Linked DNA regions of Homo sapiens: region 1 is linked to region 2. Evidence: fine-mapped expression QTL. A gene starts in region 2. The other region holds a variant in brackets. All regions are shown on one strand. Distances are between the middles of the regions.

Region 1 (5,377 bases), 66 kb before region 2:
AAAAGTTTTTTGGACAAGGATTTTGTTTATAGTTCACAAGGGTCGGGCCTCAAAGGACATAAATATTCTATCTGCCTAAGGGCAATTCAGACTGAAAAAAAACAAAACAAAACCCTGAAATGGTGTGGAGGAGGGAGGGAGAAAAGAGAATTAAATATGCATATACCTCGCAAGCCCGCCACCCTCCTCCATATGGTGTCTATGTAGCAGGCGGTAAAAGACCACCCTGTTAGAGAAAGCGATAACGTAGAATGTGGTGGACAGATACTCAGGCACTTATTCTATATTGACCAAGAACCTATCATGGGCTGGTACTGCTCCTACTCTAAGAGCTGTGGTGATCTCAGTGAATTAAACAAACTCCTTGTTCACATAGAACATATATTTTAGTGAGTACTAACAGACAATGAACAAATATCATCCCCACACCCCCCCCACACACACACACAGACACCCATCAGGGAGCAGTAAGTGAAGGGGTATAGGAAGACAAGCAGGCAGGGAATACTTTGCACAGTCAGACGTAATAAACTAGGCTGGGTTCGGTGGCTCATGCCTGGAATCCCAGCAGTTTGGGAGGCTGAAGGGGAGGACTACTTGAGGCCAGGAATTTGAGACCAGCCCTGGGCAACATATCGAGACTCCATCTTTACAAAAAATAAAAAAACTAGCTGGGCATGGTGGTGCACACCTGCAGTCCCAGCTACTTGGTGGAGGCTAATGAGGGAGGGTTGTTGAGCCCAGGAAGTCTAGGCTGCAGTGAGCCATGGTGGCACCACTGCACTCCAGCCTGGGTGACAGAGTGAGACCCTGTCTCAAAAAAAAAAAAAAAAAAAGTCATAAACTAGATTTACAAACAGTATATGAATAGACTTTAAAAATATAGTCAATTGACCATTGATTAGCATTTATGATGCAAAGACAGAACAACTTTGTACAGAACTATATTCCTGGGTGGGGATTTCTGGTTGTAGCAGGATATTAAGCAAATAATAGAGAACCTTTTCACGCCACCTCTGGCTGAGCCACCCCACTCTGTTGAATGTATTAGAACTACCTTGATTTAAAAAAAAAAAATATATATATATATATATATACCCATTTCCAACTAACATACTGTTTCCTGAAAATAAAGCTCTACTCCACACACACACACACACACACACACACACACACACACACACACACACACAAAAGAAGAAGATGGCTTCTGGGAAAAGATGTTTTCTCCAGCAAGCTAAAAATTGGAATGACCAAAGAAAGCACCTTTCCAGCCTAACAGAGACCATTAGTGAGGCAGGCAAGAATCCAAAGTTGGAATCTACATCCATTGAATCTAAGGTCTCCTGTCTTTCTCAGTGTCCTTCAAATGACTTTCAAAATAAAGTCTTATTTTGGCAAAGGCAAAAAAAATACATAGTCAATTGAAAGAAGGGCATAGAATAAAATTAATGGCATCATATTACTTATGAAACTTAAAAACACGTATGCAAAATGCTGCTATACATAGTTCAGGTAAACACATGTCTAAGGACATGTATATCAACAAGTTAGCATGTAAACCTAACGGAAGTGAGAATGGAAGTTCGAAAGGGGAACGGGGAAAAAATAATGAATAAAACAAAAGAGGAGCTTTGTCTGCATGGATGATAGGGGGCCAGGAATTGAAGTGTAGGATTATTTAAGTGAAAGTAAAAAGAAAGATCCAAGAAACAATGGGGAAGGAAGGAGATTTTGCTGCCAAGAATGAGGAAATGAATCTACTTTTCCTTCCTCCCTGCATTTGGGACTAGGTCTGCCAGTGAGCCTCCAAGCTTCTCCCTCTGCCCCATGAGGCTGTCTCAGGGCAGCACAGCCTGCAAATCTGCCACTGCCAGGGGGCAGCAGGGGCAAGCATGGTGGCAAGAGGCAGTGGGCAGGCGTGAGGCAGCCTCTACCAGCCTGTGGCCACCTTCACTGGATCACACAGCTCTGGTTCCCAGTTCAGCTCCATTATCTACTGTATATGTGACCTTTGGGCAAGTTGCTTTATTCTCTGAAGCTGTTTCCCCATCTGTGAAATGCGACTAATAATATCATAACAGTAAGCCCTTCGCAGAGTGGTTGTAAGGATTCTGTGGGCCAGCGCATGTAAAGCCTCCATTGCAAGGCTGGAACTAGAGCCCATTCTTGGAAATTCTTAGTTATTAACATTCTTCTCTTTTTTGCTTTCCTGAAATGACTGCCAAACTCAACTTAGTCCCAGCACATCATTCTGCATGTTCAGAACATGCCTAAGCAAACTACAGGCAGGCTACTGGCAACCTCTGCCAAAGGATACCTGTGGCTTTCACTTTTTTTTTTTTTCTTTTTTCGAGATGGAGTCTGGCTCTGTCACCCAGGCTGGAATGCAGTGGTGCGATCTCACCTCACTGCAAACTCCGTCTCCCAAGTTCAAGCGATTCTCCTCCCTCAGCTCCCCAAGTAGCTGGTATTACAGGCCCCCACCATCACACTGGCTAATTTTTGAATTTTTAGTAGAGATGGGGTTTCACCATGTTGACCAGGCTGGTCTCGAACTCCTGACCTCAAGTGAGCCGCCCGCCTTGGCCTCCCAAAGTGCTGGGATTACAGGCATGAGCCACCGCACCTGGCCGGCTTTCACTTTTTAAACACACCACACCTGACTCTTCCTGATCAGCCCCCAGGATCAGGGGTTACAGAATGCTCTAGTACAAACCTCACCTGATCATGTTTCCATGCAAGAACAAGAGGAAACCCAACGCTATTCTGTGGATCTCTTCTCTGCAAAGCTATTGAAATGCTGGCGTTTATTTTTCAATGTGCTGTGCTCAGGACAGCTTCTTTTTTCTACACATTTGACATAGAATCACATAAGGAACGGAGTCAAAACCCCAGGGAGAAAGGGTGTGTGCTCACTCGTGTGTGTGTGATTGTGTGTACATGTGTGTGTTGCAGGTGATCTTATTCTAGGTGGTTGCTGAGTTTCCATCTCCAGATTTTCATGGCACCTTTAGCTCAACTCAGCCCAGGCCGAGTAGGTTTGCCA[A/G]TGTCTGTGCCTGATGTTGGCAGGATGGCTTTGGCAGGAATTGTGAGCACAGTTTTGAAACCTGTACTTATCAGATGGCACCGGATTGCAGTGTGGCAATAATTACAGGACAATTCAGAGTTTTGCCGGGACAAAGGGTGGAGCAACTCTTTGCGGTTGAGATTGCAGAGCAGCCAAAACTGCCCCACCTGCGGTGTGGTGGGGAATGAGGGAAGGACGGGCCCCCAGGAAGAGCAGGGCGCACAGCTGCAAGTGTCTACACTTGAATGCCTACCTCAAAAGCACAAGCAAACAAGGGTAACCCCTGGGGCTGTCCCCACGGAGATCTGCATAGGATGCTAAATTGTGAACCCCTTGCAATTAGGGACCATGCCTAATTCATCTTGTTCTCCCAGAAACTGGTAGTAGGGCCTGCCCAGAGTAGCTGTTCAATAAGTATTCATAAAATAAAATAAAAGCTTTCACATCTTTTTGCAATGCAGCCAGCTAAAATGAACACCAGATCTTAAGCACTCTTAAATGCCACCTTATTGGTTTCTTGTTTTGTGTGTGTGTATGTGTGTGTGTGTGTGTGTGTGTGTTTTAGACAAGAGTCTCACTCTGCTGCCCAGGCTGGAGTGCAGTGGTGCGATCTCAGCTCACTGCAACCTCCACCTCCCGGGTTCACGCCATTCTCCTGCCTCTGCCTCCTGAGTAGCTGGGACTACAGGCACCCACCACCACGCCCGGCTAATTTTTGTATTTTTAGTAGAGACAAGGTTTCACCATGTTGGCCAGGCTGGTCTGGAACTCCTAATCTCAGGTGATCCACCAAATGCTGGGATTACAGGCATGAGCCACTGCACCAGCCCCTTATTGGCTTCTGATCTCTTTCTTTTTTTTCCTTCCCTTTAGGATTGTAAACTGCAGTTTCCTCCCAGATGCTATTTACACACACGTTTTGCCAGCTTAGTACTGTGTCCCTGTTCGCATCGGTGTAGCACTCACACACCTGCAAAGTGCCTCTAACGATTCATTCTTCATCTCAGTCTTCAAAGCAAGGTCGTTGGGGCATCTCTAGTCTCCACTGCAGGCTGCAGGTGGGAGTTAGAGAGAGTGTGAGAAAGTTCAGTTGTCCAGGGAGAAGAGCGAAGGGACCCATCTCTCTCTTGCCACCTGGGGTTCAGTCTTTCTTCACCCGCTAAGTCAAACTCCCTGAAGCTTAACAAAACAAGAGTGATTTCTTCTGCTCTCTTTCGCATCTGGTCTTCTAGATCATTTTGTTCTTCCAAGTAGCTCCTGACAAGCTGCAATTCATTTTAGGCAGATACAAGTTGCATGAGCCCGAGGTGCTGAGTCTTGCGTCCCTGGCAAACTTTTCAAACTGAGTTTGACGTTGACGCCTTTCTTTAGAATGAGCACTTGTGTTTGCCACCTGAATCAAACATTATTATGAACATGTATTTACACACAGAATATTAATCTTAAAAATTCCTCCCAATGTTTTATCCAGTTTGGAGCCAAAGAAGTTCATTCTCTGTGTGTGTTTATTTCTCTCTCTTGATAAACCGCATTTATCAGAGGAAGTTTGTCTTTTTAGTCGTTGTCGTGCAAAAAATAGTAACCGAGTGACTATTCCTCTTATAAACTAAAAAAAAAAAAAATCCAAACACCTCCCCACCCGCCCCAACAAATGACTGAACGGACTGTCCTCTTGGTCAAGGGGATCCAAGCAAACCTGAAAAACTAGCTCAGGCCATGTGGGAAGGGAGGGTTGGACGTGCCCCATTTACCCTCCTCCCTTTGGAGTTTAGGCACAGCTGACCAGCATTAACATGCCATTAACGCTCTTAAGACTGATAAAACAGACTCTTTGTAACAATAAGATACCAAATTCCAACCTGACTCTGGTATAACATCACATGACAGATAGCAGGCCTTGAAGGAAATTGGTTTACACCCCCCACAAAAAACAAAAACAAAAAAAAACAACAACAACTATATATATGTGTGTGTGTGTGTGTGTGTGTGTGTGTGTGTGTGTGTGTTCTTTTTTTAGCAACCTTGGGCAAATTACGTAGCCCATGTCGCCCTGATGACCTCTGTAGAATCGTTGCGAGGATTAAATGACTCCATTTATGTAAAGCTCACAGAATAATGCCAGGGACTATGGTAATCACTCAGAAAAAAAAAATGCAAGCTGGTGGGGCATAGTGGCTCACGCCTGTAATCCCAGCTCTTTGGGAGGCCAAGGCAGGCGGATCACGAGGTCAAGAGATCGAGACCATCCTGGCCAACATGGTGAAATCCCATCTCTAATAAAAATAAAAAAATTAGCTGGGCATGGTG
Region 2 (5,377 bases):
ATTTTTGAGCAGAGATGTGACATGATTTGATTTATATATCCATTTAGTCACAAATAATTTTTAAAGGTGTTTTGGAGAATAATTAAATGTGAAATTATGCACATTTACGTTGACTGTGTTGTTTTAAGCTGGGATGTTACAATCTCATTGAAGATTATAATTCTGGAGTCAAATTAGCTGAAGACTTTCCTGCTTAAAAAGTTTTCCAGCATGTGATACATGCGTAAGTAGAGCTTTTTTAATTATTATTTTTTTTTTTGAGACGGAGTCTCGCTCTTTCACCCGGGCCAGACTGTAGTGGCGCTATCTCAGCTCACTGCAAGCTCCGCCTCCCGGGTTCACGCTATTCTCCTGCCTCAGCCTCTCGATTAGCTGAGACTACAGGCGTCCGCCACCGCGCCCGGCTAATTTTTTGTATTTTTAGTAGAGACGGGGTTTCACCGTGTTAGCCAGGATGGTCTCCATCTCCTGACCTCGTGATCTGCCCGCCTCGGCCTCCCAAAGTGCTGGGATTACAGGCGTGAGCCACTGCGCCCGGCCAAGTAGAGCTTTCTTCTATATACCTATTACTTTACTTTTTTCTTCTTTTTCATGTTCTTCACTACACATTTTGTGTGTGTTCCTAGGAAATCTTTTAAACTAAGTTTTATTTGATATGTATATTTAGTATCGATGTTCTAAGATACTATTGAATAAAATACATACTGCAGTAGCTTAGTTAAAATACTGGAACCGAGGCCAGGAGCGGTGTCTCATGCCTGTAATCCCAGCACTTTGGGAGGTAGAGGTGGGTGGATCACCTGAGGTCAGGAGTTCGAGACCAGCCTGACCAACATGATGAAACTCTGTCTCTACTAAAAATACAAAATTAGCCGGGCATGGTAGCACATTCCTGTAATCCCAGCTACTTGGGAGGCTGAGGCAGGAGAATCACTTGAACCCGGGAGGCGGAGGTTGCAGTGAGCCGAGACTGTGCCACTGCACTCCAGTCAGGGAAAAAGAGTGAAGCTGCATCTTGAAAATAAAATAAAATAAAAAACACTGGTACCGAAAAAAATAATAGTCACAAATGGCATTACTTTGTGCCTTTTACAAACAAATAATACTTTGAGGGCCAATTGTATACCATTATCATCTAAAGTCTGTCTCATTTTCTTTGCTTTAATGAAATCATGATAATCTATTATTTTCTACTCAAGGTTAACAGAAACTGGCTTGTTACTTAATATTTCTTTGACTTCTTTTGTCCATTAAAAAAGGGGGGTGTTTTTAAGATTAGTGGGTGAAAGTTGATGTATAAATAAGAGTAGACACAGCTTTAGGTAAAATGACGAAACAGGTTAAGTTTGGCTTCCTCTTTTTGTTTCAGTTCAGGCCCATGCACCTAGCACAATACTTAGCGCATTGTAGGTGCTCATTATATACTGCTTAAATGAGTGATAAGTTCCCTGAGACATTTATTTCCTGCACTTGTTAGGGTTCAGTGAGCCGATATCCGGCCACTGCCCTCCAGCCTGGGCGACAGAGCGAGAATCTGTCTCAAAAAAAAAAAGATAAAAAATAAAAATAAAAGACTACCTGCCAGAGGAAGTGGGCAATCTTCGCCTAAAGATATGAACTGCTAATGGTTAAACATCAGACGTCAGAGAAGACATATTTTAAAGTGGGGAATTTTCCCCAAGAGCACCCTCTAAACCACATCAGTGGGCAACTTAACGCACTTTGCTTGTCATTGGGTTAGATGGGAGTTTGAGGAATTGGGAGTAACATTTGGTATATAGGCTTGGGACATAATATCCTGAATTATTTCTATTTCATAATTCCTGTGCAAAAAATTATGGGAGTTGTTGATTCTACAGCAATTCCTGTCAATTTGTAGATTATCTGCTTATTAATAGTTTGTATTGTTTGGCAGAACTTGAAAACTACCGAACGATTACAGTTCAGGCTTTTTCCCAGTACCTCTGGCGTTGCTGTCTCAGTGACTAGGAGGTGAGGAGGGTGGCCCTTGAAATGCCAAACTGCCTACCGCAGCAGTCTGCCAGCAGCGTGCTGGGCCCAGAGCCGGGGATGCAGCCAAAACATCCTGGATTTTACCTACAGCTCCCACCCTCTGGAGGGACTGGTCTATTAGGGCATATGACACTGACAGTGCGCACTGTATACAAACCGTGTTTGAACAGGAGTCGGTTGGAAAATACACCACTGCACTGAATTACTTCTGCAGTGGCTTTGCAAAGCTCTTTTTGTTTCTTGAAAGAAGCCGACGGTAACCATTACAATATGGCTTTTTCCAGGTCCCAGAGGAAGGCTAGGGGTGCCTTGTGGGTAACCCTTTCTCCCTCTCCTGACTCCTTCCCGTTATTTCTTCTATCTTCATCCTCTAGACCTACACAATGGGACAGGTTGACAGTCTGTGTTGAATGGAAGAGGCGGACGATGCGCTTGTGTTTGGTGCTTCTCAAACGGTGCTCGCACTCCCCAGGGTCTGACGCAGCCCACTACGCAGAGCCCTGGGAGGAGGTGCGGACCCAGGGTACGACCCCCGACCGCTGAGAAACCCAGACCGGGCCCCGGCTGCAGCCCCGCGGGTCGGCCCGCCCCCCTGCCTTCCCTATTGGCTCGGCAGTTCCACGCGTCACGCCTGCGACGCCGGCGCTGCCCTCCCAGAGGAGGCGGGGCTTACACGCGCGAGGCGGAGCCAAGGGCGCACGCGCAGACGAGCGGGTCTGGGTCCGGACGAGGGGAGGGAGGGGGTGGTGTTCTCGGTTTCCTGGGTTACCTGGGCGGGCGGGGGTGGGGAGTGCGCGGCGGCGGCGGCAGCGGCGTCGGCTCGGGGTTCTCCGGGAGAGGGGGAGTGCGCGGCGGCCGCAGCTGCCACAAACCAGGTAAAGGCGGCCGCCGGGCGCCGACGCTGCCGGCAGAAGGTTCCGGGTCCCGGCCCCTCTGCGTGGCCTGGAGGGGAGGCGGTTTGGGGCTGGTGGCTGTCAGCCTGGGTTGAGGGCCGGGACCGCCGGGCTGAGGGCGCGAGGGCGCGAGGGCACTCGGCCTGACGCGCCAGCTCGGGGCGTCCTCTCTGGCTTCTGGGCTCTGGGACTTCTCGCGGCGCCGGGCCGCCTTTGACAGCCGCCGGGCCGCGGGCGGGAGCTCGGCTGGGCCCCTCTGGGCCATTGCAGCGGCCACTGGGCACTAACTTTATTTCGCAGCGCGCGGGGGGCGAGGTCGAGCAGGCTGACGGCGGTGTGTTGCTACCTTTATTTTATTTTTTGATCCTGTGCCGCTGCACTACTCAGCCCAGCTGGGCCCAAGCTGTCAGGTTGACGATGGGAGTTGACGGTTTCCGCGCCACCACCCAGCCGGTCACTCCCCGCGCTGTTGCCCTGCGGCGCTCGCCCACCTGTCACCTACACCGTGCGCCTCGGTCCGCTCTTTCCTCCTGTCCGTGACACCCTTTGACTGGGCGAGAGCCTCTCTTTCCAGGGGATCCCCTGAGACATCTGCCGTCTGTCTCCGGTATCACTGGAGCCTGACTGAGATGCCCCTTCGCTTCTGATGAGTTAAATAAGCTGGGAAATTACCCGAGAAGACCCCGGTACCACAGTGTAAAGCCCAACGAAGGGGTTGTTTAATGGTCCAGGGGATACAGAGGCTTTAAGAAACGTTTCCTTAACGCTAATTCTTATCTGGTTAAACAAAACATAGCAAAACATCCCCGATCCGCTCGGCAGACCATACACACCCAGCGACGGCACTTGATAGTTAATGGGGTTTGTTTTAAGCAGATAGAAAATTTTAAGGGAGTCGAATCTTGTGTTGAATGCGTTCGTGTTGAATTTGGGCCAGTGTTTCCTTGAAGATCAAATGCAGGTTGCATTTTCCTATTGTTTGTTTAACAGATTGATAGGACAAACTGAATTAGACTTTTCTTCCTGATGATTCTTGGCTCTTCTGCGCTATTATTTTAAAATTCCACGCCTAGATTCATCTATGCTAATAAAGATGTTGACTTTAAGCTTTCAATTTATAGATGTAGTTGATTAATATGGGGTATCTGTTTTAAAGAGCTTTGTTAAGTGGCCAACAACTCTTTTTCTGATAGCTCTTTGCTGTCATCCATATTGTTACTACAAAGATTGGAGAATTTGAAGAAGAGAGGGCATAAGGAAAAATGAATTGCTGTAATTTGCATAAAAATACTTCACAAACTATATAATTATATATATGTATTTAGTAAATATTTATTGAGCACCTACTGCGTGTCAGATACTTTTCTAAGAAAACATAAATATCTGCTCCTTCATGGAGCTTATATTCTAGTGGGGACCTCAGATAATAAACAAATAAAATATGTGCTGTGTCAGATGGTGTTAAGTACTACAGAGAAAAAGCACGGAAGAGGGAGGGCAGGGAAGAGGGAGGGCAGGGAACCGGGAGAGGTTTGCAATTTTAACTAGAGGCAGCCAGGGAAAGCTTCCTAGAAAAGATATCATTTGAGCCAAGACCAGAAGTAAGTGAGGGGTAATCCATGTACCTCTCTGAGGGAAGGATGTGCTAGCAGAGAGGAAGGCAGAAGGGCTTGCAGAAGCCCTGTGTGCTGGGCTTGTTTGAGGACAGCAGAGAGGCTGATTTGGCTGTGGTGGAAAAAGCAAAGAGGAGTAGAAATAAAGTCAAAGAGGTGAGTGTGGTGGGAGATTAGACTGTATAAGGCCTTGTAGGCCCTTTTAAGGACTTGAGTTTCTACTCTCAGTGGAAAGGGGAGTCCACTCTTTGAGTAAAGAACCTTACCTTTTATTTTTAGTTTTGAGTCAGGATCTCACTTTGTCTCCCAGGCTGGAGTGCAGTGGCATGATCACAACCTACTGCAGCCTCGACTTCCCAGGCTCAGGTGATCCTCTCACCTCAGCCTCTGAAGTAATTGGGACTTCAGGCACACATCACCCACCATGCTTGGCTAATTTTTTGTAAAGATGGGGTTTCGCCATTGTTGCCCAGGCTGGTCTCAAACTCCTGGGCTCAAGCGATCCATCCACCTTGGCGTGTCAACATTCTGCGATTGTAGGCGTGAGCCACTGCGCTCGGCCCCAGGCTTGCCTTTTAAAAATGATCATTCTGGGCGCTGGATGGAGAATAGACTTTGTTGTAGGGGAAGGGTTGAGCAGGAGCAGAAGCTGGGATACCAATCCGGAACTGTTGCCCTAATCCAGGCCAGAGATAATGTAGCTTGGACCAGAGTGGAATTGGTGGAGGTGGTGAGAGGTCATTGATTTCAGGATAAATTGAGGGTAGAGATGTAAAAGACACCAAAATTTAGTTCCGAACAAGTAGAAAGATGGGGTACTTGTTTACTGAGATTAGGTTTACGAGAGGAGTAGGTTTG

Direction of the effects. Alleles are on the strand shown, and positions count from the first base shown. SD is a standard deviation of normalised expression in the study named.
With allele G in place of A in region 1, the expression in unexposed skin of the gene that starts at base 2,825 in region 2 is lower (moderate effect, 0.45 SD a copy in GTEx).

Evidence for each region.
Region 1: its variant is fine-mapped to the expression of LYST in unexposed skin (GTEx, PIP 0.96).

The regions. Positions count from the first base shown.
Region 1 is chr1:235,930,146-235,935,522 of GRCh38, reverse strand. All of the region lies in intron 2 of LINC02768 (long intergenic non-protein coding RNA 2768), which reads left to right. The region is part of intron 2 of LOC105373215 (a long non-coding RNA gene); the gene reads right to left. Among named protein-coding and RNA genes, the nearest start is that of LINC02768, 40 kb to the left of the region's middle. The variant A/G (reference allele first, on the strand shown) is at 3,050.
Region 2 is chr1:235,864,354-235,869,730 of GRCh38, reverse strand. LYST (lysosomal trafficking regulator) reads left to right here and starts at 2,825. Exons shown (of 53, transcript NM_000081.4): 1 at 2,825-2,888. RefSeq lists silencers at 2,358-2,657, 2,708-3,127 and enhancers at 3,248-3,347, 3,718-3,767.